6 separate regions of the Homo sapiens genome follow, and regions 1, 2, 3, 4 and 5 are each reported to be linked to region 6. Evidence: microRNA targets listed by miRTarBase, many of them from high-throughput screens and not tested one by one. Region 6 holds a microRNA gene; each other region holds the end of a gene's coding sequence.

Region 1 (5,074 bases), not on the chromosome of region 6:
TCTGGAATGACACAGTTCTGACTGATTGTTAAAGACCGGAAGCTCCATGTGAGCACAGACAGCATCTTTTCTGCTCATCACCGCATATCTTGTACCCAGCGTAATGCCCTGGCACCAGTACCTGTTTGCTAGATGATAAAACGAAGAGGAATTTCCTGGGTTGTGGATAGGGGCCAGTGGAAGAAAAAAAAATCTCTTACAATTTCATAGGTAGCACAGCCATTCCTTATGAAAATTATCATTCTTCCCCATCAGTAAATCCTACCTTTAATGAATTCTAGCCTATGGGGCCATATATTTCAAAGGATTGCCTAATTTAATTGCTTTGGCCTTGATACGCTTCAAGAACACAGCAATCTTCTACTAGTGGGTCTCTCCATATTAATTTCCACTCATTTCGCTATCGCCCATCTGCAACAGACCTTAGGACTAGTATTTTTATTTATTTATTTTTTTGAGACCGAGTTTTGCTCTTGTCGCCCAGGCTGGAGTGCAATGGCTCGATCTTGGCTCACTGCAACCTATGCCTCCTGGGTTCAAGCAATTCTCCTGCCTCAGCCTCCCAAGTAGCTGGGACTACAGGCGCATGCCACCATGGCTGGCTAATTTTTTGTATTTTTAGTAGAGACAGGGTTTCTCCATGTTGGTCAGGCAGGTCTTGAACTCCTGACCTCAGGTGATCCACCCACCTCAGCCTCCCAAAGTGCTGGGATTACAGGCGTGAGCCACCGTGCCCAGCCAAGGACTAGTATTTTTAAAGTTCGCATCTTGACTTTGACCTTGCTCGACCAAGAATTTATTCTTGGAACCAAAAATCAAGAGGTGAATAATTATCCTTTTCTAGTACATAGCTCAACAAAATTAACTGATAACAACTTTTAAGTATATATACACTGTGAAATAAATGTTCTGTAATAGTACATGTGAATGTAAAACACTAAATTCACAAATACGCTTTGTCATGAATCAGCTATGTGCCAAGACAAATTCCTTAACCGTGTTTACATCATCTTAAGTATCTTAAGAAAAATATGATGTGTTTATCATACATTATTTAACTAGAAACAAATTGTTATTCTAAAAGGTCAGGAAAAACTATTCTTTATGTATGAAATGAAGTTATTTCTACTTATTTTAGAGGCTATATACCTATACAGAGAGGCCATACTTATAACATCCATGGATTTGACTGGCATTTAAATTCAGGTTCTGCAGTTTACAACAGTAACTCCTGGAAAAGTCTCATTTAGTTTCCTCACCTATGAAAAAGAGAAGCATTGCCTATCAAACAGGATTACCTGAAGATTAAACAAAATAACATAGGTGGAAGCACCTGTCATCATTTATACTCAAAAAGGTTTTTTAAAAAAGTGAACAGACATGGGATAGCATGGTAGCGTACATAGGTTACAAAATCCTAAAAAGATAGTAAGTTATAAAGAAAATAAAGCATAGTGGCTCACACCTCTAATCCCAGCACTTTGGGAGGCCGAGGCAGGTGGATTGCTTGAGCTCAGGAGTTTGAGACCAGCCTGGGCAACATGGCAAAACCTCGTCTCTACAAAAAATACAAAGATTAGCCGAGTGTGATGGCATGTGCCTGTGGTCCCAGCTACTTGGGAGGCTGAGGTGGGAGGATCACTTGAGCCTGGCAGGTCGAGGTTGCAGTGCGCCGTGATTGCACCACTGCACTCCAGCCTGGGTGACAGAGCGAGACCCTGTCTTAAAACAACAAAACAAACACACAACCCCCAGAGTGCTTGTTTATATTAAAGCAAATGGTCATAAAATATTGGACTAAACCTTAAAATAAGTCTGCACCTTCAGTAGCAATTAAATATTTGCTTTCAAAGGGAAAGGACTGGCATGTGGACAAGGCCTCATGCTGGCTGGCTATAAAATGCATCACTGACTCACATACGTAAACTACCTTAGTATTAATGACTTCTAAAAAACTTCTGAGGGTTTTGCTTACTTGTGTTTTCTGCAGTGAAGCATAGAAAATCCTCCTCTCCTTGCTCCTTTTTCCTTTTCATAGCTCTGAGCTGTTTTGCCCACTCGCACTAGTTACTGCACAGCAGGGCGGCCAGGTCAGAGCTCTGGGCTGTGTGCTACAGCTTCTGCAGTGATGACTTCAATCTCCTGACCTAACTTGACAAGACTGCAACTCTTCCCAGCACTCTCTGCAGGGGAAGGTGTGCGCTGCAATGAATTCCAAACATTGCTCCCTTTCTGAATGGTGCCTTGGTTGAACAGATTTGGCCTCTCTTCCTCATGCGAGAGATGTTTCCTTTCAGATAAAATGGAGAAAGGATGTGAAGAAAACTCTTGTAAGCCATCTCTGTAGACCTCCGCACAAGTATTTTGTCCATTTTTCAGTATATTTTCTTGACAATTAGATACCAGGATAAGACTTAATTTAACATTTATAAATATTTAAGAAAAAAAGGAATCAATTTGGAAAACTTTTATCAATCAACAAGTTATCAAAACAAGGGTTTGCTTTTTGACAGTGAATGTACAATATTATATGGTTTGCCATTATTTCCTCTTTTGGAAGAAAGGTAAAATGAGAAATACATTATATAAGTCATTATAAGTTCAGTAGATTTTTAAAACACTTGAGACACGAGTTAGAAAAAATGCAATTGAATAAACCAATTGTAAGACCCATCTCAAAACAACAAATTTAAATATGAACCACATATTAGATGATACTAAGTAATTATTGTTTTTGTTAGGAGTAATAATATCACTGTGGATTTTTTAAAGGCCTTACTGAAGTATTATAAGTGAAATAATTTGTGTGATTTGCTTTAAAATATTCCGATTTTAAAAATTTTGTGTTGGATGGATGCAGTGGCTCATGCTTGTAATCCCAGCACTTTGGGAGACAGAGATAGGATTGCTTGAGGCCAGAAGTTCCAGACTAGCCTGGGAAACATGGCGAAACCCCGTCTCTTATTTTTTTTAAAATAAAGAAAAATTGTATGTTGAGGGAGGAGGGGTGTGGTGGTGGTGGTGATGGTGTGGATAGACAATAAATATGATAATAGATCGCAGTACTCTTAACACTGCTGTTGAGATATATATATATATATATTATATATATATATATATATAAAATAAACAAAATAATGGGATTTATATATGTGGCACCCAGTACAATGTACAATTTTCTTTTTTAAAAAAGTATTTAGGTTATGCATTGCTAAGCACATCTGTGATTGATGAGAGTGACTCTAGTATCTAAACTGTTGGAGGAGGGTTGTAAGGGTAACAGGTAGGGGAGGCATATAGAAGGAATATGTTGGTATCATAGATTTCCTAAGACTCAGGGAAGGCCACAGAGCTAGGGTACTAGTCTATGCTAGAATTAATGGATTATGCAACCGAAGAAAGACAACTTTTGAATGAAAAGCTCTCTCTGTGCCAGACTTGAGGTCACCAAGCATCCTGCTCACACTCTGCGATGTCTGTGGAGTAGCACACCACCAGAAACTGCTGATGGAATTACATCTTCAAGATTCAAAATGTTTAGATCCAATATATCTAATCCATAAAAATAAAGCATTCTTTATGCTGAATGCAGTCCTATGCAGTCAAGAACAATAATCTAGACATTTTTCATGTAGGATTTAAATAGGAGTACAAGTGAATTAAACCATTCAGATAAAAACGCAACTAAAGATGCATTAGCTGCTTTGAGTCAATATATTTTGTGGTCAACCTGATACTCCATCCACATAAAAAAGGCATTCTATTTCTTTATTTTTTTTTTATTTGACAAGCAGCAGTATCATGTTTGTCATTTTAATGTAGATACAATTATTAGGTTATCTGTCATATTACAATATTTAAGTTTTTAAATTTTATGTCCTTTAAGATACATTAAAAAAAAAAAAAAAGACACATCAACTGCAAACGTGAAGGGGAGAAAAAGCATGGTACCCAACCGAATTTCCACTTTTCAGCAATACTTCACTCATTCTTTTAATAAAGTTTTAAGAAATGTCATAATGACATGAGCTTGAAATATCTCTAGGCATTTTCTTTGACGCTCATGACGTGGCACTGGTGATGTTGTAAACAGCAGAAAACAGGGGCTGCCAAATGACCAAATTATGGAGGCACAGTCCTGCTTTTTCCCACAGGAACACACCAAATGGTGATGGCAATGATCTTCTCACACCACGCTGGAGGAGAGCGACATCACGCGACGTAGCTGTATTCATCTGCCGACGCCTGGCTGCGTTCTATGTATTGTTTGTCTATCAGAACTTCAATACACTTCTTAATCATGCTGATACTGGGATTAAACCTAGCTCTTGACTGGCTAATCACCTGTGGAAGAGATGTGGAAGTCAAACTACTGCCAGTTCTTCAGCTATTAAGTAATGACTTTTAACCAATCAGTTTAAAGTGCCTCAAATGTACTGAGGTTTCAACAAATGGGCCAAATTAAGTATGAAAATAGGAACTACAATGTGGAAAATGGATACAGCAAAATCTAATAATGATACATAATTAAGTGAAACAATAAACTAATTAACCTAAGTACTCACACACAACCCCAAGCTTCTATTTAACTCAACTCTCAGCTCTTAGTTCAAACACTTTCTCAAGAAAGTTTTCCCCAGCAGCCCCTAGGCCAGGATATTTAAATACATTCTCATAGTACTGTATACGTTTCCTTCAGTGCATGCTAATGTAATTTTACATTTATTTGCATATCATTTCAATAGTGTATTTCTTCCCCCATTAAACTGTGAACTCCAAAAAAGCCTGCCATATCTTCAGCTGCTCTGTGCTATATCCCAGGGACCAGCCCAGCTGTCTATCACATGGTAGGCTCAGATAGTTATGGAATGAATGAATATCTGATGGGTCAATTTCCTTCAATAACTGGACAGAAGACTCAATGAATCAGCAAGTTTTAGACCTCTAAAATAAAGCCAAAGCAAATATGAATTTATTATTATCATTTGAGATAGCATCTCACTGTGTCACACAGGCTCAATCCCTGGGCTCAAGCAATCCTCCCGCCTCAGCCTCCCAAGTAGTTGGTACTACA
Region 2 (5,071 bases), not on the chromosome of region 6:
TGTCAGCACATCTGGGAGCCAGGAATACCCCTCCTCCCCCAGCCAGGCCAGAGGGCCCCCGACTAAGTCCCTTAGAGGAGGGTGTCTTCCCTTCTGAGGATTGAGAAGTGCAGAAAGACTTCTGTTATGGGGTATGGGATGAGGAGAGAAGGGAGCCGGTGCTGAGCAGAGTCATCTGGGGGAGAGATTCTTTCCTGGCCTTCCCAGCAGCTTGTTGTGTGGGCTTGAGCATGTTGCTTCCCTTCTCTGGGTCTCGGTTTCCTTGTCTGCAAACCCAAAGGGTTGGTCCAGTCTGATCTGAAATGGAAAGACACACCAGGCGCGGTGGCTCACGCATGAAATCCCAGCGCTTTAAGAGGACGAGGTGGGCGGATTGCTTGAGCTTGGGAGTTAGAGACCAGCCTGGGCAACATAGCAAGATCCCATCTCTACAAGTAGTACAAAATTTAGCCAGGTGTGGTGGTGTGTGCCTGTAGTCCCACCTACTCAAGAGGCTGAGGTGGGAGGATCGCTTGTATTCTGGCAGTTGAGGCTGCAGTGAGTTGTGATCCTGCCACTGCACTCCAGCCTGGGTGACAGAGCTAGACCCTATCTGAAAAAAAAAAAAAAAAAAAGAAGAAGAAGAAGAAGTGGAAAGACAGAGGAAGGTTGGGATGGGCAGTGGTCTGGAGGAGGGAAATGAGTCTTCTTGCCTTTGCAACTCCACAAAACCAAGTTTCAACCTCCCTGGGGTGGGCAGGGAGAACTACTTCCTCCCTGGCCAGAGAAGATCAAATTCTTTTGCTAGCATTCTGTGAACACTGGACAACCTGGCTAAACAGCTGCCTTCTGGGTCAAGCACAGGGACCCAGTGGCTGGGCACAGTGGCTCATGCCTGTAATCCCAGCACTTTGGGAGGCTGAGGCTGGCAGATTGCTTGAGTTCAGGAGTTCGAGACCAGCCTGGGCAACATGGCGAGACCCTGTCTCTACGAAATATACAAAAAAAAAATTAAAAATTAAAAATAACTGGCCGTGGTGATAATGTGCCTGTAGTCCCAGCTACTCAGGAGGCTGACGTGGGAGGATTACCCAGACGTGGGAGGTTTACCCAAACCCGGGAGTTCAAACCTGCAGTGAGCTATAATAGCGCCACTGCACTCCAACCTGGGTGACAGAGTGAGACCCTGTCTCAAAAAACAAAAAAGTACAAGGACCCCAGGTTCACGGTTCCCTCATGGCTGTTATTCCAGTGAAAGGGGAACTCTGTGCAGCTGAAGGCAGTGGTGGCTGACCAGCAGACCCCAGGGCGAGGAAGACTCATCATCCTTCTGGAAGGCACTGGGGAGCCACACCCCACTGGGCCCCCTCACCTGCACTTGTGCTTTGGGAAGGTGGCCCTACCTGGGTTTACATTGCCAGTCTGGAGTTCCTTCATGATGCCTGTGGTGTGGCTCCCATATGCTCTGTCCCCTCAGCCGCCTCGTGCCTGGCCTGGCCCCTTCTCGTCACTTCAGGTCATTTTCTCCAAAAGTCCCAGGAAATAGGAAAGAAAAACGACTTTGTTTATTTACTCTCTGTTGCCTTTTGGACCCCGATTCCTGGAGCAGTATATTGGGTGCAAGGGGGCCAGGAAGAGGCTCTGGTATTTGTGTCATCTGAGAGAGATAAGGGCCCCTGACTTGGGGTTAACACTCATTTCCCAGCTGTCAGGTCACGGGGATCAGAGAAGGAGGCATGAAAGGAGAATACCTCAGAGAAGGTGGTTTTGTTTTTGTTTTTGGTTTCTGTTTTTTAAATGGAGACAGGGTCTCGCTATATTGCCCAGGCTGGTCTTGAACTTCTGGGCTCCAGCCCTTAGCCCACCTCGACCTCCCAAAGTGCTGGATTACAGGAGAGAAGACGTTTTTTGCTATTAGAAGAACCCTAGTGCTGAAACCCCAGAGTTGGGGGGAAGGGTACTAACCTCTTGGCTTTTAAGGAGGGACTCACTCCGGGGGCAGGTATATGCTGAGTGTATAGAGAGGCAGAGAGGCATGGGCTTTGGAAATCAAATGCTCCTGGGTTCCAATCCTGTTTTCCCCATATTCCCAAGTGGTGTGCCCTTGGCCAGGTTGCTTAACCTCCCTGAACCTGAGTTGCTGCCCCTACTTAGTTGACAAATATTTACTGAGCACCAATCTAGGCACCAGAAGTGACCAGTCCAAGTCCTGGCTCACATGGGGCACGTGGCCATGTCTGAGAACATGGGGATGAGAATGCCTGCCTTGTGGGAGCAGGTGGGATGCTTAATCCAGGTAACCTCTAAGTGCCCCTTAGTGTTTAAATGAGAGTGACTAAAAATAGATGGGCTGAGGGGAGGATACCTTCAGCCCGGGAGCTGGAGACCAGCCTGGGCAACATAGCGAACCCTGTTTCAAAAAAAGAGAGAGATGAATAGATGGGTGCTTTTTGGGAGGAGGGTGATCCTGTCCGCTGCTCAGGTTGGGGCCCCTAGGAACGGGGAAGGGAAGCAGGCATGGGGAGCAGTGGCCAGGAAGCCCCTGAATGCCTGGGGTCCTGTGGTGGGGGAGGGGGTGGGGCTCCACCTGCATGCAAGATTTGCTTCAGGACCACCCCTCCCCCCACTTCCAGTGAACCTGGCTAGACTGAGGTCATAGGTCACCACTAGGACCCCATGTCTGGGCTTTCTCGGAACGACTCCCTGCCAAGGAACCAGAGCGCCTCTAATAGCCTGGAGCCTCTAAAAGCTTTGACCACAGCTCAGCTTGCTCCCTGCAAGCCCTTTGAAGCGCTTCCTTCGAACTTGCTTTGCATATTCTGGTCAGATCTGAATCAGACTTGCAGGAATTACCCCTCTCGGTAAGTCTAGGTGGCTGCCTTAGCTTGTCAGTGACACACGAGGCAGGCGTGCTGACGTAAGGCTGAGACGTATTCGATTCCACCCTCTGCGGCTCTCTTCCTCCTCTCCGATGCAGAGTGTGGGTGTGGGTGAAAGAGAAAGCAAGGCACGGGGCGGGGGGCGGGGGGGCAGGGGTGCAGAAAAGGCTCAAGTCATGTTTTTCATTAAAAAATAGTGCTCTTTATTATAAATTACTGAAATGTTTCTTTTCTGAATATAAATATAAATATGTGCAAAGTTTGACTTGGATTGGGATTTTGTTGAGTTCTTCAAGCATCTCCTAATAGCCTCAAGGGCCTGAGTAGGGGGGAGGAGAGAGGACTGGAGGTGGAATCTTTATAAAAGACAGAGTGATTGAGGCAGATTGTAAACATTATTAAAAAACAAGAAACAAACAAAAAAATAGAGAAAAAAACCACCCCAACACACAACTGCCCTGTCCAGCCCAATACCTGACACAGAATACTTTGTGTTTGTTTAGTTGCCCCCCCCCACAAAAACAAAAACAAAAACAAAAACAAAAAACTGTTCCAGGTAATTCCATCGCTGCTACATTCCTGTAAATTGTCACTGATCAGTGCTATGGCAGAGCGGGAGCACCCGGGGTGGCAGCAGTCCAGCCTCTCCAATGACCTCCAGCCTCCCCCACCCAGGCAGGAGGGAGGGCTGTGCAGGGCTCGGGGCAGTGGGACCTGGTGGCTCTGCTCTGACCACGAGGCGCCTGACTGGCCAATACTTACTGGGCTGACATTCCCAGTGCTCAGCTGGGAGGCATGGGTTTCCGCCCCCCCTCCCCACTTCCCTGGCTGTGGGCTGGCTTGGTGCCCTCCAGTGAGTCCCTCAGCCTCTCCACCCATCCAGGCTGAGTATGTGGCTTTCCTATGCTGGGTCCCTCTCCATGGGACAGGGAGCATTTAAGGCGAATCTCTTAGCCAGACATAGTCAGGAGGCACAGAGTAGAATCCCCTGTCTTCTCTACCAGGAGCCTGAGGTGAAAGATGTCCCGTCTCCTCCATCCTCCCGCTCCATCCACCCAGGTACAGGAAGGTATAGTATGAGTAGGAAAAGGAGACCAGCTGACCAGCCCATCCATCCCCTCCAAATGTTGCTTCCCCCTTAAAACGGAGGAAGGGCCCTGGGCTCTCAGGCACCAGGTAGACTTTGGAACCTGTGTTTTCGGTGACTGTCCCGGAGGAGAGGATGTGGGGTACCAGGATGGTTCCCTTCAGGTCACCCCAAGCCCTTCTCCCCGGAGCCAGGGAGAGGAGCATGTCACCAGGATCCTCGCCTGGGGTGGGCGGGGGGTGTGACCATTTCCTTCGCCAGCCCGCAGCCCTGGGGCCCTCAGGACCTCTCTCTCTTCCACCTTTCCCAGGCTCCACAACCAGCTCAGGTTTAAACCAAATCAAAGAGCAAACAAGTTCCGTTGGAAAGTTTGAAGATTCCCTGGCAGTTCTCATTAGTTCAGCATTCCCGAAGTGTCCCCTGTTTGGAGGCAGAGGGGAAGCTGAGGAATTGAAGGAGAATCCACTTGTGGTTGCTATCGTCCCACCAGGACAGCTGGCTCCTCCGGAGAAGCTGGAGACTCAGGTGGTACTCCCCCTTCCCTCCAACACATTCCAGGTCCGCCTGCCACATTCTGCAGGGAGAGGGCAGAGGGAGGGGCCTGTCCGCCCTCTTTCCCCCCAGAGCTACAGGACTCTCTCCTGGTTGGCTTCTTGTGCTTGTGCCATGTGCCACGGAGGAGAGGGGCCTGCGTCCCCTCTCCCGACCCATGCCCTTTGCGCCCTTTACCCCTTAAAGCGGGGCATCGTACTGGTCCAGGAACTCCCGAATGGGCCCCGGCAGCTGGGTGACTTTCTCATAGGAGTCCAGGTGGCCGTTGACGGTCTTCCGACAGAGATGCTGAAGAGTGGCCACGTTGGAGGAGAGGGGCCGGCTCAACACCAGGGGGATCTTCTCGCCCCCGGAGTAGATGTAATAGGCTCTTCTGGGGGGACTCCCAGGGAGTGGCTGGGCAGACGGCTGCTCGGGCACCTCGGAGGAGGGTTCAGTAGGTGGCGAGGGGAAGGAGGGGGCTCCAGGGGGCGGCATGTAGTGGTGCACCAGCTTGAGCACGCAGTCGAAGCGGGGCACGGGCTGCGTGCTCCGGGGATCGCTCTGCAGAGAGAAGCTGCCCCCCTCACACTGG
Region 3 (5,074 bases), not on the chromosome of region 6:
GATTTTAGTCTCCCCTTAAATCAGGCATCTCCTAGATGCTTTGAGGAAGAAGTTGAAAGTAGGCATATGTGGAAAAAATTTAGTGAAACAAGGAAACTTTACCATGACTCATAGTAATTAAATTAAACCATCTAATATAGGAGTATGAAGTACAATAAGAGTGTACATTCACTCAAGTGTGTAGACCTAACTACCAAATTACAGGAAATAATTGGATATACCAGTGATTCTGAAATTGCCTTCACATTAGAACCACCTAGGGACTTTAAAAACTCCAAGGACTAGTCCATACCTCAGTTCAACTAAATCAGAAACTTCGAAGTTCATATAGTGTTCCAGGTGATTCCAGTATGCAGCCAAAGATGAGAATTATGGGGATAGAGAAAAAGTAACATTTAGAGAAAATGACTGGAAGATTAATTAAATTCATACAGGTATCAATAAATGAATAGAATTATAGAATTTATTATTAAAATGGAAAGCCAAAGGCAGAACTTATATAATTATAGAGCTTTTGTATATTTACTTATTACATTTAATTTTTTTAACAGATTTGTTACTGTGTTTCACTAGATCCCTTAGTATTTCTGCATCTGATAATTGATCTCTGTTTTGTTGTTGAAAATTCATTTGTATACTTTTGTTTTTATCTAGGACTTCATGTTTTTTGAAAGCACTGGCAGCCAGGAACAAAAATCAGGAGTGTGGTAGTGGATTAGTGAAAGTCTCCTCAGGAAATCTGAAGTCTGTATATTGATTGAGACTATCTAAACTCATACCTGTATGAATTAAGCTGTAAGGCCTGTAGCTCTGGTTGTATACTTTTGCTTTTCAAATTATAGTTTATCTTCTGTATAACTGATTTATAAAGGTTTTTGTACATTTTTTAATACTCATTGTCAATTTGAGAAAAAGGACATATGAGTTTTTGCATTTATTAATGAAACTTCCTTTGAAAAACTGCTTTGAATTATGATCTCTGATTCATTGTCCATTTTACTACCAAATATTAACTAAGGCCTTATTAATTTTTATATAAATTATATCTTGTCCTATTAAATCTAGTTACAATTTATTTCATGCATAAGAGCTAATGTTATTTTGCAAATGCCATATATTCAAAAAAGCTCAAAGATAATTTTCTTTACTATTATGTTCAAATAATATTCAATATGCATATTATCTTTAAAAAGTTAAATGTTTTTTTAATCTTCAAGAAATCATGCTACACTTAACTTCTCCTAGAAGCTAATCTATACCATAATATTTTCATATTCACAAGATATTAAATTACCAATTTTCAAATTATTGTTAGTAAAGAACAAAATGATTCTCTCCCAAAGAAAGACACATTTTAAATACTCCTTCACTCTAAAACTCTGGTATTATAACTTTTGAAAGTTAATATTTCTACATGAAATGTTTAGCTCTTACACTCTATCCTTCCTAGAAAATGGTAATTGAGATTACTCAGATATTAATTAAATACAATATCATATATATATTCACAGAGTATAAACCTAAATAATGATCTATTAGATTCAAATATTTGAAATAAAAACTTGATTTTTTTGTATATTTGATTTTTGTTTTTAAACGAAATGTGTTCAGATGGTATTTTGAGCACTCATTCAGTTAAATGATGGTACATTTGAAGCAGGATATTTCCCTGACCCCTTCACAGGACTCGAGACAGGGGTGCCTTGTTTACTCAGCCTGCCATTCTCAACTCCTCCTGGGAGGGAGTGCACAGGCAAACAAGGCAGGAACTGGAGTGTACAAGCACTGGAACTGGCTGGCCGCTTTGGCATGGGCAGGAACAAACTGTGCAGGCCCTGTGGTAGCATCCAGGTGGGGTTGCCTGCGATTCCTGAAGCCCCAGAAGATGTGTTAACAGTGCTCTTTTAGCTCTGCTGTCTGTGGACGGCTTAAGTGTTAACAGCTCAGTGGGCCCTTTGCCTTGTCATGTGGGACAGCTGCCCTCCACCAGCAAGGGCAAATGGCGAATGTGAGAGCCTTTTATATCGGCACTCATGGCTCCCAGGCTCTTGTCCGGTGTCCAGGAAAAATGTGGTCACAAAAACAAACTGAAGGATGGTAAATGAGGGGGATTTTATTGCTGATGAAAGTGGCTCTCAGTGAGAAAGGGAGCTGAAAAGGGGACAGTGGGGTAGGTGATCTTCCCCTGAAGTCTGGCCCTGTCCAGCTGGATTCTTCTCTGAAGTTACACTGTCAAGCTGTCCCTCTGAAGTCAAGCTGCTTCTCTCCAATGTCCAGCCATAGTCTCCACTCCTCTCTGACTGAGTCTTGGGTCTTTATAGGCACAGGATTGCAGGCAGGGCGGGCCATGGGCAGTTTAGGAAAAGGCAACATTCAAGTAGGAAAACAGGGATATAAATTCTCACTTTGGGCCGGGGTTTCAGGCATTTCAGCTTGAGGGTAGGGTTTTCACTGGGGACTCACCCTTTTCTACCTAGAATTTCTCTGCCTCCTGTCTCCATCATATTTAACTGACTTTTCCTTTCAAATCTCCTTTAAAAATGAGCAAAGGTACATGACACTTTGTAGTAAAATCTGTACCAGTGTTGGAAACTAGGATTTCCACCTGTCAGAAGCTTATAAGAATTTAGTTAATCTCTTTTGTAATGAAGATTGAGTTGAAAGATGACATGAACAACCCACAATATTCTTCATGCAATGGAAAAGTATGCTTAAGCAATAAGGGCATGTGGAAGAGTCCCTCTTTCATATTCAGCACAATTCTTGTAACAGCAGCTCTCCTCATGGTGTTAGTGCCCTAGACCTCAATAGCTCCAAATGGCAAGCGGTGAGAACATTAGTATGCAGGAGATCTTCAGGAAAAGTCAAGTCTAGATGATCTCCCACAAGTCTAAACAATTCACCAGATGCCAAGTTCCAGTGATGAGGTGTACCCATGGAACTCAGAGCATGTGCTTGGTACAGATGGCATGCCAAGAAAAGTGGAGGTACTTGCATAGCTGAATCCCAATGGCATTGTTATGCCAGTTACAGAAGAGGGTGGGCATAGGATTTCCAAACTGGCCATAATGTGCCAAAACTAACCCAAAATAAGGCTTAGAGTACTGACATTATCTCTGTGACAGCTAAATTTTACTTTCATTATTTCTCTCTCTCTCAACAGGATTCTGGATCTTTGGTTAAGCAAAATGAAACTAAACTGATCTAAACATTTCTTTCTTCAACTCTGCAAAGAAGATCTGAGCAAAACCCCACATATCTTCTGCAGAACCTATTTAAATACTAGACAAATATCTTCTCATTACATAATTACATACAGAAAATAATCACACATGAAAAATTCGATATTTAATTAAGAAAATACCAGGAATTGTTTTTCAAAGTTTAATTTGTAATCTCAATGAGATTTGAGGAAATGTTGCATATTTTTTTATTTCTACCATGTGAGTTATAACAGTGAATGGAAAGTCACTGCGTGTCCCTGACTAGGGAAAATATTCAGGAGGAAAAGCTGCAATGGATGGGGCATGGAGGTATATTTTTGATCTTGGGAAGGAAGTTCTAGGTAGGTGGTCAGTGAGGAAGGGGGAGAAGGAGGGAGGAAGAAGGAGGGGAGGGAGGGGAGGAAGACAAGATTAAGGGATGTCAGTACCTCTCCTATGTACCTCTTGGGGGAGGGTTGAGGAGTGAGGGGAGTGTAAGTGAAAGTAGAGACAAGGCTGGGAGAGGAAAAAACAAAAAGCACCAGCCACAGGCAATTAAATTGCCAGAAAGTCAGTGTCTGGGCTCCCGGCATCAAGTTAGCTAGCTACTCTATGGATAAGTACTGAAGCTTTAATTGCATTTGGGCTCAAAAACAACAACTGTAACTTTAGGGTAACTAGAAAAGCCTCTGTAGAGAATCGCTGCCATCAGTTAAGAATGGAATGATTTAAAATGTCTCTGGGCACAATGAAGTGCTCCTAGAGCTTAAAGTGCCAGAAAAGTGTACAGGGTTTCCCTCCATGTCCTGCCTCTCTCCTTTACTGTCTCTAGCCCAGCATACACCGCCTGAGTTTCTAGGGCCATGTTCCTGCACCTGGTACTGTCTCCTTCAAGCTGTGTGTTCCTCCTTGTGCCTTAATTTCCCTTAGTTGTCAATAGTATCGTTGTCAATTGATTATGTTATCTACCTCATAAGGTCAGTATGAAGATTCAGTGTTCTAATGCAGGTTCAGAGACCTGAGCAGGTTCCTGCAATAGAACCAGTGTAAAAAATGAAAAGGGCTATGTGTTGGTAAAGATCAATGGTTTTCAGAACACAGAGAAGTGTCTCAAAGCCAGTGAAGAATATTTGGCCTAAAGTAAATTTCTGTATTGTGATTTGAATAGCAAGCAAAATCCATTTAAACCCTAGCAAGAATACTATCTCCTCAAAAAAAAAAAAAAAAAAAGTCCATGCAAGATGCCAAGCTAGGGAATGATGCTCATCTCACAGAAGTGTAGATTAAGGGAAATTAAGGCACAGGGAGGAACAGAGTCTCTGGCTTCTGTGTTAGAGCCTTTTTTAATCTTAGCTTTATAGTGTCAAAATGTGGCAAGCTATTTTAAGAGAGGAACAATAGCTGGGCGCAGTAACTCATGCCTGTAATCCCAGCACTTTGGGAGGCCAAGACAGGTGGATCACCTGAGGTCAGGAGTTCAAGACCAGCCTGGCCAAAATGGTGAAACCCTGTTTCTATTAAAAATACAAAAATTAGCTGGGCATGGTGGCAGGCATCTGTAATCCCAGCTACTGGGAAGGATGAGGCAGGAGAATTGATTGAACCTGGGAGGCGGAGGTTGCAATGAGCCGAGATTGCACCATTGCACTCCAGCCTGGGTGACAAGAGTGAAACTGCTTCTCAAGAAAAAGAAAAGAGAGAGAGAGAGGAACAATAATCTGGGCCCCTGAAACCAGATGAAACAACTGACAATACAGAGTCTGAACTCATGATTTACAAACTGAGAGGGCCATGGAATGATAAGGAACAAGTACAACTGGTCACAGAGCTCTGCACTTAACAACCCTCCACACACATACACACACCAAGCA
Region 4 (5,074 bases), not on the chromosome of region 6:
GATGGGGTCTTACTATGTTGTCCAGGTTGTTATTACTTTGATTATAAGATTTTATAAGTAGTCCTTAGAAACATGATTTCATTTCATTAAGAAATAAATAGGCCGGGTATGGTGGATCACACCCGTAATCCCTGCACTTTTGGGAGGCCAAGATAGGCGGATCACTTGAGGTCAGGAGTTTGAGACCAGCCTGGCCAATATGGTGAAACCCCACCTCCACTAAAAGTACAAAAATTAGCCAGGCACGGTGGCGCGTTCCTTTCCCAGCTACTTAGGAGGCTGAGGCAGGAGAATCGCTTGAACCTGGGAGGCAGAGGTTGCAGTGAGCCGAGATTGCACCACTGCACTACAGCCTGGGCAACAGAGCGAGACTCCATCTCAAAAAAGAAAAACAAAGAAATAAATGAAAGCTAGCACTTACTGAATGTTAGGCACTGTTCTACATGACTCATTTGCTAAGCCAGCTGGAAAGTGGCAAAGCCAGAATCCAACCTGGGCGTTCTGTCTGCCCAGAGTAAGAACTTAATAAGGAGAAATTGTAGTTAGTTCATAGTAGCTCAGCCTTTCAGAGAATACTAATCCTTGTTCTGTAGTGATAGTCCCAGTTTTGTCCTAGATTTAGTCACGTCTCCCAATTGGACCTCTCTGCTGATTTGGATTGGCTGATCTCATCTCGCTAGATATTATTTGTGTTTTGTTTTGTTTTGTTTTCCAGGGGAATATGAGCCGAGGAAATAGCTTATTTTTCCGGAAGGTCCCCTTTGGGAAGACTTATTGTTGTGACCTGAAAATGTTAATTTGAAGATGTGGGGCAGGGACAGTGACATTTCTGTAGTCCCAGATGCACAGAATTATGGGAGAGAATGTTGATTTCTATACAGTGTGGCGCGCTTTTTTAATAATCATTTAATCTTGGGAAAATTCAGGTGTTTGGTGTCTGCCTTTTTTGTTCTTTTTTCCAGCACAACATAACTTACCACTGATACTCCCCCTTTAGTTATTCTGAATTAGGATATTTTTGCTCCAAATTCTTATTTTACTTAACCAGAAGGGAAAAAAAGTTGTATTTTCCTGAAGCTACAGGCACTTTGTCATGTGATTTTTGAGTCTCAATTTAAGGCTTTGTAAAATGAAGAGTAGAATTCCAAGAAAAATGAGAAATAATTTTGTAAAACTTAACAAAATCACTAAATTAAACTATATGGGAGGTTATGAATTACTTTTTCTTGGGTAGACCCTAAAATGTCAGTAGCATGCACCAGAATCTGACTCCCATTATGCTTCTAAGCACATTTCATTGACCTTGTCTCTCATACTTCAAGAAAAGGACAGTACATTGCTACATTACCCTAGAAAGTCTGTGTGAGGATCTGCCCCTTCAGTCTGTTATTGCAAAGTAATAAAATGTCACCTACAGGGAGCCTCTGAGCCTACTCTAGTTCAAGAGGCTACCTGAAAAAAAATAAATAAGATAAAGGGTCAGCAACAACAAAGAAAAAGACAATTACAGAAAATAAGCAAGATTTGGAAAGGAAGTATAATGGCACTTTTTTCCTCAAAGGAAGTTCTTGTTTTCACATAAAATATGAAAAGCAGATCCTGCAGGAGTAACCCCCTTCTTTAAGAGCCAAGTATTTGCCAGTGCTTAAATTACACCATACAGTTCTAATTATATATAATCTTTTGTTCTTCAGTTTTTTGTTTTGTTTCCTTTTTGTTATTGTTGCCGAAGGTGAGTAGTTTTGCATTTCTGATGACAGCCTTGGAAAGTATATTTGTAACTCCATGTCTGGTAATGCCAACCCAAGTCGACATGGGTCTTAGGACACTGACCACCTCACATGCCATACCCTCAGTTAAGCATGTTAACATTTATAGGAGGAAAAAAATCACTTTGGGAGAAAATAAAATTCAACTCAAGCATAAAGCTTCTGTTTACTCAGGCCTTCTAAAAAGCAGGTTAAAATGCTCTAAAATGAGAAAGCCTGTGGTTTCACTTATTTATATAACTCACTGGGACATTGCCAAATGAGTAAGCACTTAATTCGCTGCTTCTGAGACTTCTCTGTCAAAACAGCCCCACTGATAATATTAGACAGAACGAGAATGCAGGGGTCTCTTCCCTCCCCTGGGGTTTAGGAAGCTCATGAGGAGCTCGGCTTAAAATGTCTTTGATGTCTCTTCCTTTGTCTCAAAAAGTAATGTCAATTTTATATACTATTTCAATATTACTATCTGCATTTGTTTTAATATAAAAATGTTTGCTGCCTACCTTTTTCTCCCAAAAAATCTTTAAGTAAAGATGATCTGGGAAAATGTGCCATGTTTATCCTGTGGCTTCTGTGAACTTTCATGCTTGCCTATTCCTAGTTGAGAAGCATGTCTGACTCTGATAACCAGTCTACCACCAGAGGACGCCAAGGCTTCAGTTTTTCCTGTGCAAGTTGGGTGGCTGAGAAATTTCTCCAAGGCCTAGGATTGCTCAAAATACTAGTCCAGCTGTTTCAGTCTTGCTGCATCCAAGCTAGAGGTCTAGTCAGAGTCCTATACCTATGATCCTCCATAATATCTTACTATAAGCTACTAACATAAAAGTCTAAAGATATTCAGGGGCTAGGAAATGCAGGTAGGTGCCATTAAGAAACACATGCGACCGGGCGCAATGGCTCATGCCTGCAATCACAGCACTTTGGGAGGCCGAGGCAGGTGGTTCACCTGAGGTCGAGAATTCGAGACCATCCTGACCAACATGAAGAAACCCTGTCTCTACTAAAAATAACAAAATTAGCCGGGCATGGTGGCACATGCCTGTAATCCCAGCTATGCGGGAGGCTGAGGCAGGAGAATCTCTTGAAACCCAGGAGGTGGAGGTTGCAATGAACTGAGATCACGCCATTGCACTCCAGCCTGGGCAACAAGAGTGAAACTCCCATCTCTTAAAAAAAAAAAAAAGAAAAAAAAAGAAACACATGCAAGAAATAATGAACTCAGTAAGTAATATGAACTTAGGCTGGTTGTGGTGGCCCATACCTGTAATCCTAACACTTTGGGAGGCTGAGGCAGGTGGATCACTTGAGGCCAAGAGTTGGAGACCAGCCTGGCCAATATATCTACTAAAAATACAAAAAAATTAGTCGGGCATGGTGGCACGCACCTGTAGTTCAGGAGGCTGAGGCAGGAGAATCGCTTGAACCTGGGAGCTGGAGGTTGCAGTGACCCAAGATTGTGCCACTGGGTGACAGAGTGAGACTCTGTCTCTTAAAAAAAAGAAAAAGAAAAGTAGGGGTTCTCTAGTAAGCCACTTGTGAAACTGGTTTTCCTTTGTGGTACCAAGCTAAGTTGCCACAAACTGTTCCTCTAGAGTATGTGGTGACCATTGAAACCTTGACTTAAGAAGAGTGTGGGGTGGGCTGGGGGCAGTGGATCACTTGAGTCCAGGAGCTCAAGACCAGCCCGGGCAACATGGTAAAACCCTGTCTCTATTTTTTAAAGAAATAAAGGGAGGAAAATTAGCTGGGCGTGGTGGCACATGCCTGTAATCCCAGCTACTTGGGAGGCTGAGGCATGAGAATCGCTTGAACCCAGGAAGCGGAGGTTGCGGTAAGCTGAGATCGTGCCATTGCACTCCAGCCTAGGCAACAAGAGTGAAACTGCATCTTAAAAATAAAGAAGGTATGGGTTTCCTGGAACTTTGGGGGATCATTATAAAAATACTAGGGTAAAAAAGCAACCTTAGTAATCCCAGCAATTTGGGAGGCCGAGGCGGGTGGATCATGAGGTCAGGAATTTGAGACCAGCCTGACCAACATGGTGAAACCCTGTCTCTACTAATACAAAAATTAGGCGTGGTGGCGGGCACCTGTAATCCCAGCTACTCAGGAGGCTGAGGCAGGAGAATCGCTTGAAATCGGAAGGTGGAGGTTGCAGTGAGCTGAGATTGCCCCACTGCACTCCCGCCTGGTCAACAAGAGTGAAACTCTGTCTCAAAAAAAAAAAAAAGCAACCTTAGGATGAAAGAAACATTCAACATAAGCCCTATATTCCATCATCTCTGTTACCTCAGCATACCTTGACTTAACTATAATTTCCTATTCTAGAAATGTCCTCCCCCTCTTGCCAGTGACATGTTTCTGTACTGTCAGATTCAGTTCTAGTGCCATCTCTTTGTGAAGTCACTGAGAGTCCCAACTGGGTGAGAGGGCTGTGCCTTCAAACTCTCCCTCCTTCAGAGCATGTAATGATAGTACAAACTAACTGACAAAAACTACATCCAACACCAAGTTCATGTTTTATACAGCAGGAGCATTACTTCTCTCTGATTTGAAAATCTGTGGGGGAAAAATATATATTTAGTCCTTTAAAACAGGCCAACTAAAACAGCCTGCTTGGATAATATAGTGAGACCTTTTCTCAACACAAAAATTTAAAAATTAGCCAGGCTTGGTGGTGTGCACCTGTAGTGCCAGCTACACAGGAGGCTGAAGTGGGACGACTGGTTGAGTCCTGGGAGGTTGAGGCTGTACTGACCTATGGTCGCACCACTGCACTCCAGCCTAGGTGTCAACTGAGAGCCAAAAAAAAAAAAAAAAAAAAAAAAAAAAAAGCCTCACTGGGCTTTATAGAAAAGCTAGTGGGGTCGTGGCTGGTCTAAGTGCAGCAGTATTGCAACTAGTTGATCACAACCAGTTAACAGATTTTTTTTTCCTTCTCCCTTTCCACTGCTTCACTTAGCCTTTAAAATGTATATTAAAATAAAAGACTGGGTGCGGTGGCTCACGCCTGTAATCCCAGAACTTTGGGAGGCCGAGGTGGGCAGATCACTTGAGGCCAGGAGTTCGAGACCAGCCTGGCTAACATGGTGAAACCCCATCTCTACTAAAATTACAAAAATTAGGTATGGAGGCGCATGCCTATAATTCCAGCTACTTAGGAGACTGAAGCAGGAGAATCGCTGAAACCCAGGAGGTGGAGGTTGCAGTGAGCCAAGGTTGCGCCAACGTACTCCGGCCTGGGCAACAGAGCAAGACTGTCTCAAAGAAAAAAAAGAGGCTGAGGCAGGAGAATTGCCTCAACG
Region 5 (5,074 bases), not on the chromosome of region 6:
GCTAGGTCCTGCCACCCTCAGTCTCTGCCTCTCCTGTGCCCTTGCACCACCTCTCCTAAAGAATGTTTGTCTCCTGCTTGTCCTTTCTGGTCCTTTCCCCAACCTCCCATCTCCTGGGATTGGCCTCTCTGCAGCCTGCTCACACATGGTTTCTTGTCACTCACTCATATCTGCTGGAGAGCTTTCCTCGGCTGCTGTGCTGCAGCTCCCCGAGCTCTCGGTGGTTGTCACACTGTGTGCTCCTGCCCACCCTCATGTGCTCTTTACTTCCCTGCTTGGTTGCATGCCTGATGCCTTGGATTTTAGCCATCACCCATGGCCCTCACGGGATTGGCAGGACCGTTGAGATGCAGGGATCCATCCCATGTAGCAGTGTGTGACACAGCCTGCCCCAGGTGTTGGGGGATCCTGGCTCTTGGCTCTTCTCAGCACAGTTCCTCCACTCACTGGTGAGGAGCTGCTCTTCGCTGCAGAAGGATGCTCATGTGGGTGAATGTGGTTTGCCAGGAAGCCAGCCTGCTGGGTGTTTTGCCAAGGGCTTGGGCCGCTTCACTTTTCCTCTCCTCGCACAGGGAGCCGCCAGTGCTGGGGCCGTGATGTAGCCTCAGCTGTGGCAGTGAGAGTGAGAGACTGTGGTCTCTGCAGCTGCCTCAGGGAAGACAGATGCCTAAAACAGGAGGTGCAGGCTGGGAAGGCTGTTCTGAAAAAGTAGAGATCAAAATGTGTGTGCTGCACTAGGTCTCTAAAATCATGGCTTTTCTCTTCCCAGATATTGTGAATAACAAGATGGTGCATTTTGATCTGCTTCATGAAGACGTGTCCCTTCAGTATTTCATCCCTGCGCTGTCCTAGCACCCTGTCGCTGGAGTTGGCATGCAGAGACTTTGTCAGGATGGGAGAGGCCGCAGGTGTTGTGTTCTGATCACTGGTCTGTGCCCTCACAGCACCGCACATCGACACACTGTACTTATTTGTCCCTCTCTAACATTTTAACTAAAAGTTGATTCAACAACACACAGTTGGATAAACATATCACTTCATGTTGCTCATGTCTGTTTTGCTTTGTTTTTAAGACACTGAAAAGAAAAGCTAGAATTTATTTATTCAGACTTTAAAGAACAATTTCTCATTGATGTTGTGAAAATCGTCATGTATTTAGACTTGGTGTAGTAGCCAGAATTCGTAAAGCTGTTGCCTGGGAGCTTGGTACTTTCCCTCCAGGCAGAGGCTCTAGCTCAGCACGGCCTGTAGCGCACAGTCAGTCTTGCATTTCAGTGTGTTCACCCCGCTGCTCCTGCCCCTTGGAGCCCAGTGACAGAAAGAACAGCCTCTGTCACCCCGCCGCCACTGCCTTGGTTACTCAGAGCACTGTGGGGTGTCACAGCTGCAGCATTTGGAGTCTCTCTCTTGCTGAGGACTCAAGCCCACCTGAGTCCACTCCCCTCTTGATGCCTAGAGAGCTGGCCCAGCCAACACAGCTCTTAGCTGGGAGCTCCTTCTGCCATTCCAACTAGTTTCTTCCTGGGGCCAGTTTTGGGTTTAGGTTGTAATTCCTTATATTTCTTTCTTCCACAGTGTATCGGATCTGTCGTTCTGGAAAGAAGACCCTTCTATTTAGAGTAGAAACAAACGAAACTTCTAAGGTATCATCTGTGTTAAGTGATGAGACCATATTTCTTTGATGTTTCTGAACATCAAAGCTGATTCAGTACTGGTAGATGTGCTCATTCTCCCTGAAACATACCCATCATATTTCCTATTATAATTACATCTCATTGTCCTGTGGAGGTGGACATGATAAACATTATCTTTTGTTTTCTTGTTTTGTTTTGTTTGAGACGGTCTCATTCTGTCACCCAGACTGGAGTGCAGTGCCACAATCATGGCTCACCGCATTGACCTCCTTGGCTCAAGGCATCCTCCCACCTCAGCTTCCTGACTAGCTGGGACTACTGGTGTGCACCACCACACCCAGCTAATTTTCAATTTTTCATAGAGACAGGGTCTCACTGTGTTGTCCAGGCTGGTCTTGAACTCCTGGGCTCAAGCCACCCGCCCACCTGGGCCTCCCAAAGTGCTGGGATTACAGGCATCAGCCATCACACCCATCCATAAACATTATATTAATGTCACATTACAAAACTGAGACCTAAGTTGCTTAGGATAAAATGAAATTGGAAGACTAGCTAACATGAAAATTTATATTTTGGCTTTTTCATGTTTTTTGATAAAACCAGTGTATTTGAATGATTCTTTTGATGTTTAGTAATGGTTTTTTGTTTGTTTTTTGGTTTTTTTTTTTGAGACGGAGTCTCACTCTGTCGCCAGTCTGGAGTGCTAGTGGCGCGATCTTGGCTTACTGCAGCCTCCACTTCCCAAGTTCAAGCGATTCTCCTGCCTCAGCCTCCCGAGTAGCTGGGACTACAGGCGCATGCCACCACGCCCGGCTAATTTTTGTATTTTTAGTAGAGACGGAGTTTCACTGTGTTGGCCAGGATGGTCTCGATCTCGACCTCGTGATCACCCACCTTGGCCTCTCAAAGTGCTGGGATTACAGGCGTGAGCCACCACGCCTGGCCTATGTTTAATAATGTTGAAATAGGATGGAATATTTTGTTAAATTAACATTTTAAAATTAGAAGACACCGTTTTAATTTTTAAACCCTTCCTCCTCTCATTGTAACGAAATTAATTCCAGCTGCAGTGAGAAAACTTAAAAATCATGATACAAAATGAAACAATATCTGAAAGTAGTTTTATAAAACTGAAATTGCTGTTAAAGAGAATGTGTTAGTGACTTAACCATTTGCTCTATGTGATGTTTATTATCAAATACATATAATTTTGAAGATTTTAATGAATGGCTTAAGATTTTATCTTTGTGTAGAATGTGGCTAAAGAAACCTTAGTTGAGATTCAAGAAGTTGGTGTCTGTTTCTGATTCTTATCACAACTTGCTACTTAGTGTCTACCAAGTCCTCCACCTCTTTGCTCCTCAAAGAGCTGTGAAAAATGATGGCAGGAGCCGGTACAACACCACAGACTTAGAGAAGGGCACAGTGCTGCTTTATTGAATGATCTACCAAGGTAAAATTTTGCCGGGTCAAGAAATAGCAATTTAATCCATTTAAAGGAATGAATATAATTTGAAACATTAACTTATTTCAAGACTAACATCTCAAAGTGTTGAGACCTTTTTTAAAAGAGCTTTCTGGATTTTGAGCATACTTTCACTGGCTGTGATTTATAAGAATTTGTGGTTTGTGGAGTACTGTCCTAAATGCCAGGGTAAAATAAGGCAGTCCCATGCCTTACCTGCCCTGGGCTCAGGGCCTCACATCCTTTTGGTACGCACATCTTTTCTCTTCTCCCTTGTTCTGCTCTCCCGCAGCATATACCTCCTAGCCCCAGGCAATTACTTGTCTAATATCTATCTCTATATATTTGCCTATTCTGGCTTTTAGCTTTTTTTTTTTTTTTCCTGAGGGAGACAGGGTCTGGCTTTGTCCCCCATGCTGGAGTGCAGTGGTACAGTCATGGCTCACTGCAGTCTCAAACTCCTGGGCTTAAGCAGTCCTCCTGCCTCACCCTCCCAAGTAGCTGGAACTACAGGTGTGTGCCACTGCGCCCAGCTAATTTTTATATTGTTTTGTAGATATGAGGTTTTGTACGTTGCCCAGGACTCCTGGGCTTAAGCAGTCTGCCCGCCTCAGCCTCCCAAAGTGCTTGGATCACAGCTGTGAGCCACCACACCCAGCAATTCTTTTTATCCAAGAATTTTATCACCTGAGTTTTGAGGTCATTCTGTGCCATATCAGAGACACTTAAGAATTTCCCATTCCAGTTGCTCCTGGCTAGCATCCAAGTGGCCCTGCCATCCTCCTCCAGCCCTTCCTTGGCCCAGCAGGGAACTGCTTGGCCATCAGGTCTGTAGGCTGAGTTTATAGTGAGGTACTGTGCCTGGTGTGAAGGAGCCCACTCTTGGGGACCTAGAATGTGGCCTCAACAGTAGTCCTGGGGTTGGGATTCTGGTTCAGCCACTAGGCAAAGGTATTTAATGACATTCATGTTCTTAGTGTATGTTGCCAATTTAGCAAAGCATCCATCGTTTTGAAGAAATAACAATTCAGAACTTTTTAAAACAGCTGTATTGAGATATAATTCACATATCACACAATTCAACCATTTAAAATAGACTGTCTAGTGGTTTTTAGTATGTTCTCAGAGTTGTACAACCATCACCACTATCAATTTTAGAACATTTTCATCACCCAGTAAAGAAACTTCTTAACCATAAGTAATCATTTTTCATTTTTCTCTTCTCCCTTATTCTGCTCTCCCCCACCATATACCTCCTGGCCCCAGGCAATTACTTGTCTAATATCTGTCTCTATATATTTGCCTATTCTGGTTTTTAGCTCTTTTTTTTTTCTTGGGGGAGACAGGGTCTGGCTCTGTGCCCCAGGCTGGAGTGTAGTAGTACAATTATGGCTCACTGCAGTCTCAAACTCCTGGGCTCAACCAATCCTCCTGCCTCACCCTCTCAAGTAGCTGGAACCACAGGTGTGTGCCACTGCGCCCAACTAATTTTTGTATTTTTTGTAGAGATGAGGTTTTGCCACATTGCCCAGGCTGGTCTCAAACTCCTGGGCTCAAGAAATCTGCCTGCCTCGGCCTCCCAAAGTGCTAGGAGCACAGGCATGAGCCACCACACCCAGCAGTTCTTTTTATCTAACTGTAACTATATATCGTTGACCAGGATCTGCCTTCCCCGCTGCCCCCAAACACTTAAGCATCTGGTAACCACCATTCTACTATCTCCTATGAGATTTGCTTTTATAGATTCTAAATATAAGTGAGATCGTGTACTGTCTGTACCCGGCTTATTTCACTTAACATAATATTCTCCAGGGGTTCATCCATGTGGTTGCAAATGACAAGATTTTGTTCTTTTTTATTGCTGAATAGTACTCCATTGTGTATATGTCCATTTTGCTTATCCATTCATCTCTTGATGGTCACTTAGGTTGCTTCCATAACTTGGCTATAATGAATAATGCTACAGTGAACGTGG
Region 6 (5,074 bases):
CTGCTGTCAGGGCACAACAGCCATGAGCTTCTTAGGATGATCAGCCAATCAGAGCCTGCCCTTGGCAGACTCCCTCTAAGTTCATTCTGTAAAGGGATAAAGCCTTTGGCAGGTAAAGTTTTCACCACTGCAGAGGCACAAGCATTAGCCAAAGAAGGTCCCTTAGGCATCATGATACAGTCGAGGCCTTGAGCCAGTGACTGAGCAGCCATTATCTTTGAACCCTCCTGCCTAGCACAGTGTCTGGCATAGAACAAGCACTCAATACATTTTTGTTATATGGATAAGTAAAATGAGCAGAGAATAAATCCTAAAATCATAATTACCTTTTTTTTTTTTTGAGACAGTCTCGCTCTGTCACCCAGATTGGAGTGCAGTGGCACGATCTCAGCTTACTGCAACATCCGCCTCCCAGGTTCAAGAGATTCTCCTGCCTCAGCCTCCCCGGGTAGCTGGGACTATAGGCGCCCGCCACCACGCCCGGCTAATTTTTGTATTTTTAGTAGAGATGGGGTTTCACCATATTGGCCAGGCTGGTCTTGAACTCCTGGCTTTGTGATCCGCCCACCTCGGCCTCCCAAAGTACTGGGATTACAGGTGTGAGCCACTACGCCCAGCCATAATTACTTATTTTTAATTCTCTGTGTGTTTGTTTTTGAGACAAGGTCTTGCCATATTGCCCAGGCTGGTCTCCAACTCCCGGGCCCATGCGACCCTCCTGCTTTGGCCTCCCAAAGTGATGGGATTATAGGTGTGAGCCACCGCACCTGGCCAAATCATAATTACTTAAATCTACCTCCTAACTGGGCATGGTGGCTCATGCCTGTCATCCCACCACTGTGGGAGGCCAAGGTGGGAGGATGGCATAAAGCCAGGAGTTTGAGACCAGCCTGGGAAACATAATGAGACCCCATCTCCACAAAAAAATTAAAAATTATCCAGGTGTGGTGGCACATGCCTGGGAGTCCCAGCTCCTCGGGAGGCTGAGGCAGAAGGACTGCTTGAGCCCAGTAGTTTGAAGCTGCAGTAAGCTATGATTGTGCTACTACACTCCAGCCTGAGTGACGAAGTGAGAACTTATCTTTAAAAAAACATCAATCAATCAATCTACCTCTACTCCATTTTTTTTTCTTCTAGGCAAACTCAGCTCCTTATTAGAATATACGAGGCTGTCCAGGATGTGTTTACTATCTATCTTTCCAAACTTGCGTAGATGGTCCCCTACGCTGACTACTTTCCTACGGCCCCCTGTACTGTTTCTCACCTCTGAGCCTTTGCCTGTGCTGTGCCCTCTACTGGCAATACCACCCTTTCCCACTTTCTTTGATTAATTTCCACTGTTCCCCAAGACTCATATTATTCCCTTCAGAAACATTATCTGACCACCTCGTTCACATCTTTCTCAGCTACTCATCCCCTCCCCTACATACATACACACACATATACATATATATACACACATATATAATACACACACACATACACACACACACACACATATACTTTTTTTTGTTTTTTTTTTGAGACAGGATCTTGCTCTGTCACCCTGGCTGGAGTGCAATGGCACAATCACAGCTCACTGTAGCCTTGACCTCCTTGGCTCAAGCGATCCTCCCAACTCAGCCTCTTAAGTAGCTGGGGCCATAAGAGCATGCCACCATGGCTGGCTAATGTTCTGATGTTCTGGTGGAGACAAGGTCTCACCATGTTGCCCAGGCTGGTCTTGAACACGTGGGCTCAAGCAATCCTCCTGCCTCGGCCTCCCAAAGTGCTGGAATTACAGACATGAGCCACCACATGCCCCTGCCTTTTTTTTTTTTTTTTAATTAAAGAAGAGGTCTTGCTGTGCTGCCCAGGCTGAAGTGCAGTGGCATGATCCTACCTCACTGTAACCTCAAACTCCTGGGTTCCTCCCACATTGGCCTCCCAAAGTGTTGGGATTACAGGCATGAGCCACTGCGCTGAGCCAAGGTACTTCTTTTAATGTGTTCCTTTAACACCCTGTACACATTCCCACGTGGTGGTACAACCTTTAAGTATTTGTATCCCCAACTAAATTGTGAATTCCTTGAAAATAAGGACTGTTTTATTCATGCTTGTATCCCCAATACATAGCACAGAACTTTACCCTCAGAGGATGCTCAGTGTTTGATGAATAAATAATGATTGACAGAGAATTTGGATTCAGAGCTCATAGTACAGAGTTCTCTGCAGCCTCACATGACCCCCAACAAACATGAATGCTACTGCTCTTAACACTACTACTGGGGAGAGAAAGAGTCCTCTGATTACTATCGTAAAAAGAGAAGGTCACTTAACACAAATATGGGACAGAGAAATGACGGGGAGAAGGAGTATGCAACTTGGCAATGATACCTAATCTCTCCCTTTAAGGGCACAAATTCCACTTCTCACACAGACACACAGACAGCAGGCATGGAGTTCACTTTAGCACCTCTACTCTTCATAAGGCATTTCAGACATTTTTTTTTCCCTTCTAAAATTTCTGAGCTAATAGGGATCCTGGAGAACATACTGTCTAGTACACTTTCCTCATTTGACCTTTGAGAAAAACAGGGTCCAGAGAGATTAGGGTAACATCTCACCCCAGTAGCTGAATCTGGGGAAAAGTTCCAGTTTCCAGACTTTAAATCCAGTGCTCTATAATGATCTGGCTGCCTCTCTGCCCTCATCAAGCTCTGCCCATCCAAAAACCTAAGGGGCACTGTCTTGCTGGATGGGCATCCTCAGCAGCTCACAGACCTGGCCCTGCTGAGGCTGTGCGATGATGATCTGCCCAGGCTGGATGGTGGTCGTGGAGCTGGTGGTCTGCTGGCCTTGCTGCTGGCCCTGGACTTGGACAGCGGTGGGTTGCTGAGCCAGCGTGAAATAGTACTGGACTGGCTCGGCAGGAGTTACAGACTGGCGCACCTCCTCCTGTTGGGTGGAAAGAGAGGCAGGTAAGAGGAAAAGAACCAACTCAGCAGCCGCCACAGTGAATTTCCACTCTTCCCCCAAACAGGCTATGTGCAGTTGCCTGCTGAATGCTGAGCTCTCCACATTTGAAGCCAAAGGAAAGTGGAATTCAAAGAGACCAGTTATGCTAAATCAAACTAAAAATAACAGATCCTATAGGCTTCACAAAACATACAGCCAATTTCTGAAGTACGAAATAATCACCCATTGCATGATAAGTTGCAAACGGGCAAATAAGTACCGTAACTAAAAACCACACACCAGCAGTGCTTGTCAGTAAATGCTGTCAAGGCCTGTGATCTGAGAACAGTGCTAATTGCAAGTGTTGGGAAGATGCTACCCAAACATCATGCCTCTCAGGCCTGGTCCCAATCTCCCAAATAGGCAGCACTCTTCTCGTTTTAGCCCCACCACTTCAAGGGGGACAGAACAGGTTAATGGGAAACAGGGCTTTTCCTGAGCTGAAATTTCAGGATCGAGAGCACTGGTAGGCAAGTACCCAGCTTTTCACAGCTTGTTGAAAGCTCTGTGGTCACTGAGGGCATGTCTATCCAGTGTCACATCTGGTTCTGGTTGTACTTAGCCACAGAAGCGCAACCCAGGGGGCCTGATGGACAGCTCTCCGCTGGGGTACTGCCTTGGCTGATTAGGGAGGTCGCATTCTGTCCGATCTGCGGAGTGGAGACTGTTCCTTCTTCAGCTGATGTTTTCCATGGCAGAAGGAGTAAACAACCCTCTCCCAGCCACCTTGAGCTCACAGCTGAGAGTGTAGGATGTTTACACACACTACAGCATGGTTATAGCCCACAGGGTCCAGGGTTGATCAGCCCCTGACCACTGACACAGAACGGCGTCTGATCCGGAGTGACCTGTGTGACACATGGTGCCCCTGCCTGGGACAACAAAAACAATAAAAACACAGAACCACTTGGGCTGGCTGAGTAAAAATATTAGCTAAATTTACTCATGTCCTTATTCAGGGCAAAGTTTGCCACGTTCCAGAAAAGAGGAAAAGACACTTCTTAGATGTACACAGACCCTGTGGATTGCCTCCAACTCCCCAAAGTAACATTTACAAAGCTGGTATTGACCCCATCCCCACACTATGTTAGGTGCCCTCAACTGTGCTTCCAAAGTACTGTCCTCACAGTATACATTTTTGCACTTGCATGTCAAATTAACTGTCTGTTCTACTAAAATGTTAAGCACCATGAGGGCAAAGCCTAGCTCTCTCTTGCTCTCTGCTATCCCCCGCGTTCCCAGGTAGGCACTCAGTAAGTGCGTGATGAATGATGAATGGATTTAGACAGGCAGACAGTTAGAGGCAGGAAAGTAGTTCTCTGAATCCAACTTGCTGATATGACAAATTCTCTTAAACCCAACAGCTGTTACCAATAGAAAAAAGTAGTCTCTAAACTCTCTTTTGGTACCTCTAAGACTCTGTGGCCACAGTGTGAGGAAGCAGCTAGTGTCCCCTGTGGAACAGAGCTGAGTATCCTTTGTTTGCCTGATGTCTGGGGGCTAGGATACTAAAACTAGGACTGCCAGTATCTACCCCTGAGAAACATGGGTCTCTGCATGACATGGTTACTTGACAGCCATCTACCCAGCTTAGGGAGATACCTGTAACATTCTGGGTTTCTAAGTTAATATATGAACTGACTTTTTAGGTTGATATAGTCTGTGCTTCAGACACAAATAGTTTTAACCCTCAATATGATTATGCTAAGGCAGAAGGAAAAGGAGATTCCCTTTTATTTTCATCTAGGTCTCAATTTCCACAACAATTTCAACCCCAACTTATCATCATTATAAATAAATGTCAGCCTGGAAACTAGGTATTGGCTGTGGCAAAGCTAAAATACTGATACCTTTTGCAGCCAAGAAACAGAAGCCAACTGCTCTTTGCAAAGCTATTGAAGTAGGTTCAAGGTACTTGTGTTCCACTGAGATCTCCCTTATTATTTTACAAAAAGCACAAATCACTGAAATCCAGACCTAACTTGGAAAAGCTCTTGGGTAATGAGAGGGTATACAGGAATGAGAGCCTCAGAACCAGCTGTGTAGGAAGCTAGGCAGCAGGGAGACACCTGCATTT

What was found. Region 6 holds the annotated microRNA hsa-miR-30c-5p (UGUAAACAUCCUACACUCUCAGC, at 3,736-3,758, opposite strand). A microRNA usually pairs through its seed, bases 2 to 8, with sites in the 3' UTR of a target mRNA and lowers its output. Matches are read on the target gene's strand: a 7mer-m8 pairs with bases 2 to 8, a 7mer-A1 pairs with bases 2 to 7 and ends in A, and an 8mer does both.
Region 1: miRTarBase lists CUL2 as a target of hsa-miR-30c-5p. Seed matches in the 3' UTR shown: 8mer at 4,085-4,092.
Region 2: miRTarBase lists SOCS3 as a target of hsa-miR-30c-5p. Seed matches in the 3' UTR shown: 8mer at 3,246-3,253.
Region 3: the mRNA of PLSCR1 is a reported target of hsa-miR-30c-5p. The part of its 3' UTR that is shown has no 7-base or 8-base seed match.
Region 4: the mRNA of MTCH2 is a reported target of hsa-miR-30c-5p. Seed matches in the 3' UTR shown: 7mer-m8 at 1,933-1,939.
Region 5: the mRNA of HUS1 is a reported target of hsa-miR-30c-5p. The part of its 3' UTR that is shown has no 7-base or 8-base seed match.

What each region holds. Positions count from the first base shown.
Region 1 is chr10:35,006,099-35,011,172 of GRCh38, forward strand. CUL2 (cullin 2) reads right to left here. Exons shown (of 21, transcript NM_003591.4): 21 at 2,453-4,344. The coding sequence ends at 4,213. It overlaps LOC124902409 (a long non-coding RNA gene), which reads right to left and starts at 500. Exons shown (of 2, transcript XR_007062110.1): 1 at 1-500.
Region 2 is chr17:78,353,741-78,358,811 of GRCh38, forward strand. SOCS3 (suppressor of cytokine signaling 3) reads right to left here. Exons shown (of 2, transcript NM_003955.5): 2 at 3,038-5,071. The coding sequence ends at 4,678. Among named protein-coding and RNA genes, the nearest start is that of SOCS3, 3.8 kb to the right of the region's middle. RefSeq lists enhancers at 840-1,341, 1,665-1,714, 2,540-3,039, 3,097-3,746 and a silencer at 2,774-2,961.
Region 3 is chr3:146,511,682-146,516,755 of GRCh38, reverse strand. PLSCR1 (phospholipid scramblase 1) reads left to right here. Exons shown (of 9, transcript NM_021105.3): 9 at 655-1,576. The coding sequence ends at 711. Among named protein-coding and RNA genes, the nearest start is that of PLSCR1, 30 kb to the left of the region's middle. RefSeq lists an enhancer at 2,103-2,604.
Region 4 is chr11:47,614,561-47,619,634 of GRCh38, reverse strand. MTCH2 (mitochondrial carrier 2) reads left to right here. Exons shown (of 13, transcript NM_014342.4): 13 at 716-2,318. The coding sequence ends at 802. Among named protein-coding and RNA genes, the nearest start is that of C1QTNF4, 23 kb to the right of the region's middle. RefSeq lists a silencer at 2,023-2,082.
Region 5 is chr7:47,961,134-47,966,207 of GRCh38, reverse strand. It overlaps HUS1 (HUS1 checkpoint clamp component), which reads left to right. Exons shown (of 8, transcript NM_004507.4): 8 at 770-2,920. The coding sequence ends at 852. Among named protein-coding and RNA genes, the nearest start is that of PKD1L1, 15 kb to the right of the region's middle.
Region 6 is chr1:40,755,984-40,761,057 of GRCh38, reverse strand. MIR30C1 (microRNA 30c-1) reads right to left here and starts at 3,774; the gene lies at 3,686-3,774. NFYC (nuclear transcription factor Y subunit gamma) reads right to left here. Exons shown (of 10, transcript NM_014223.5): 6 at 2,764-2,937.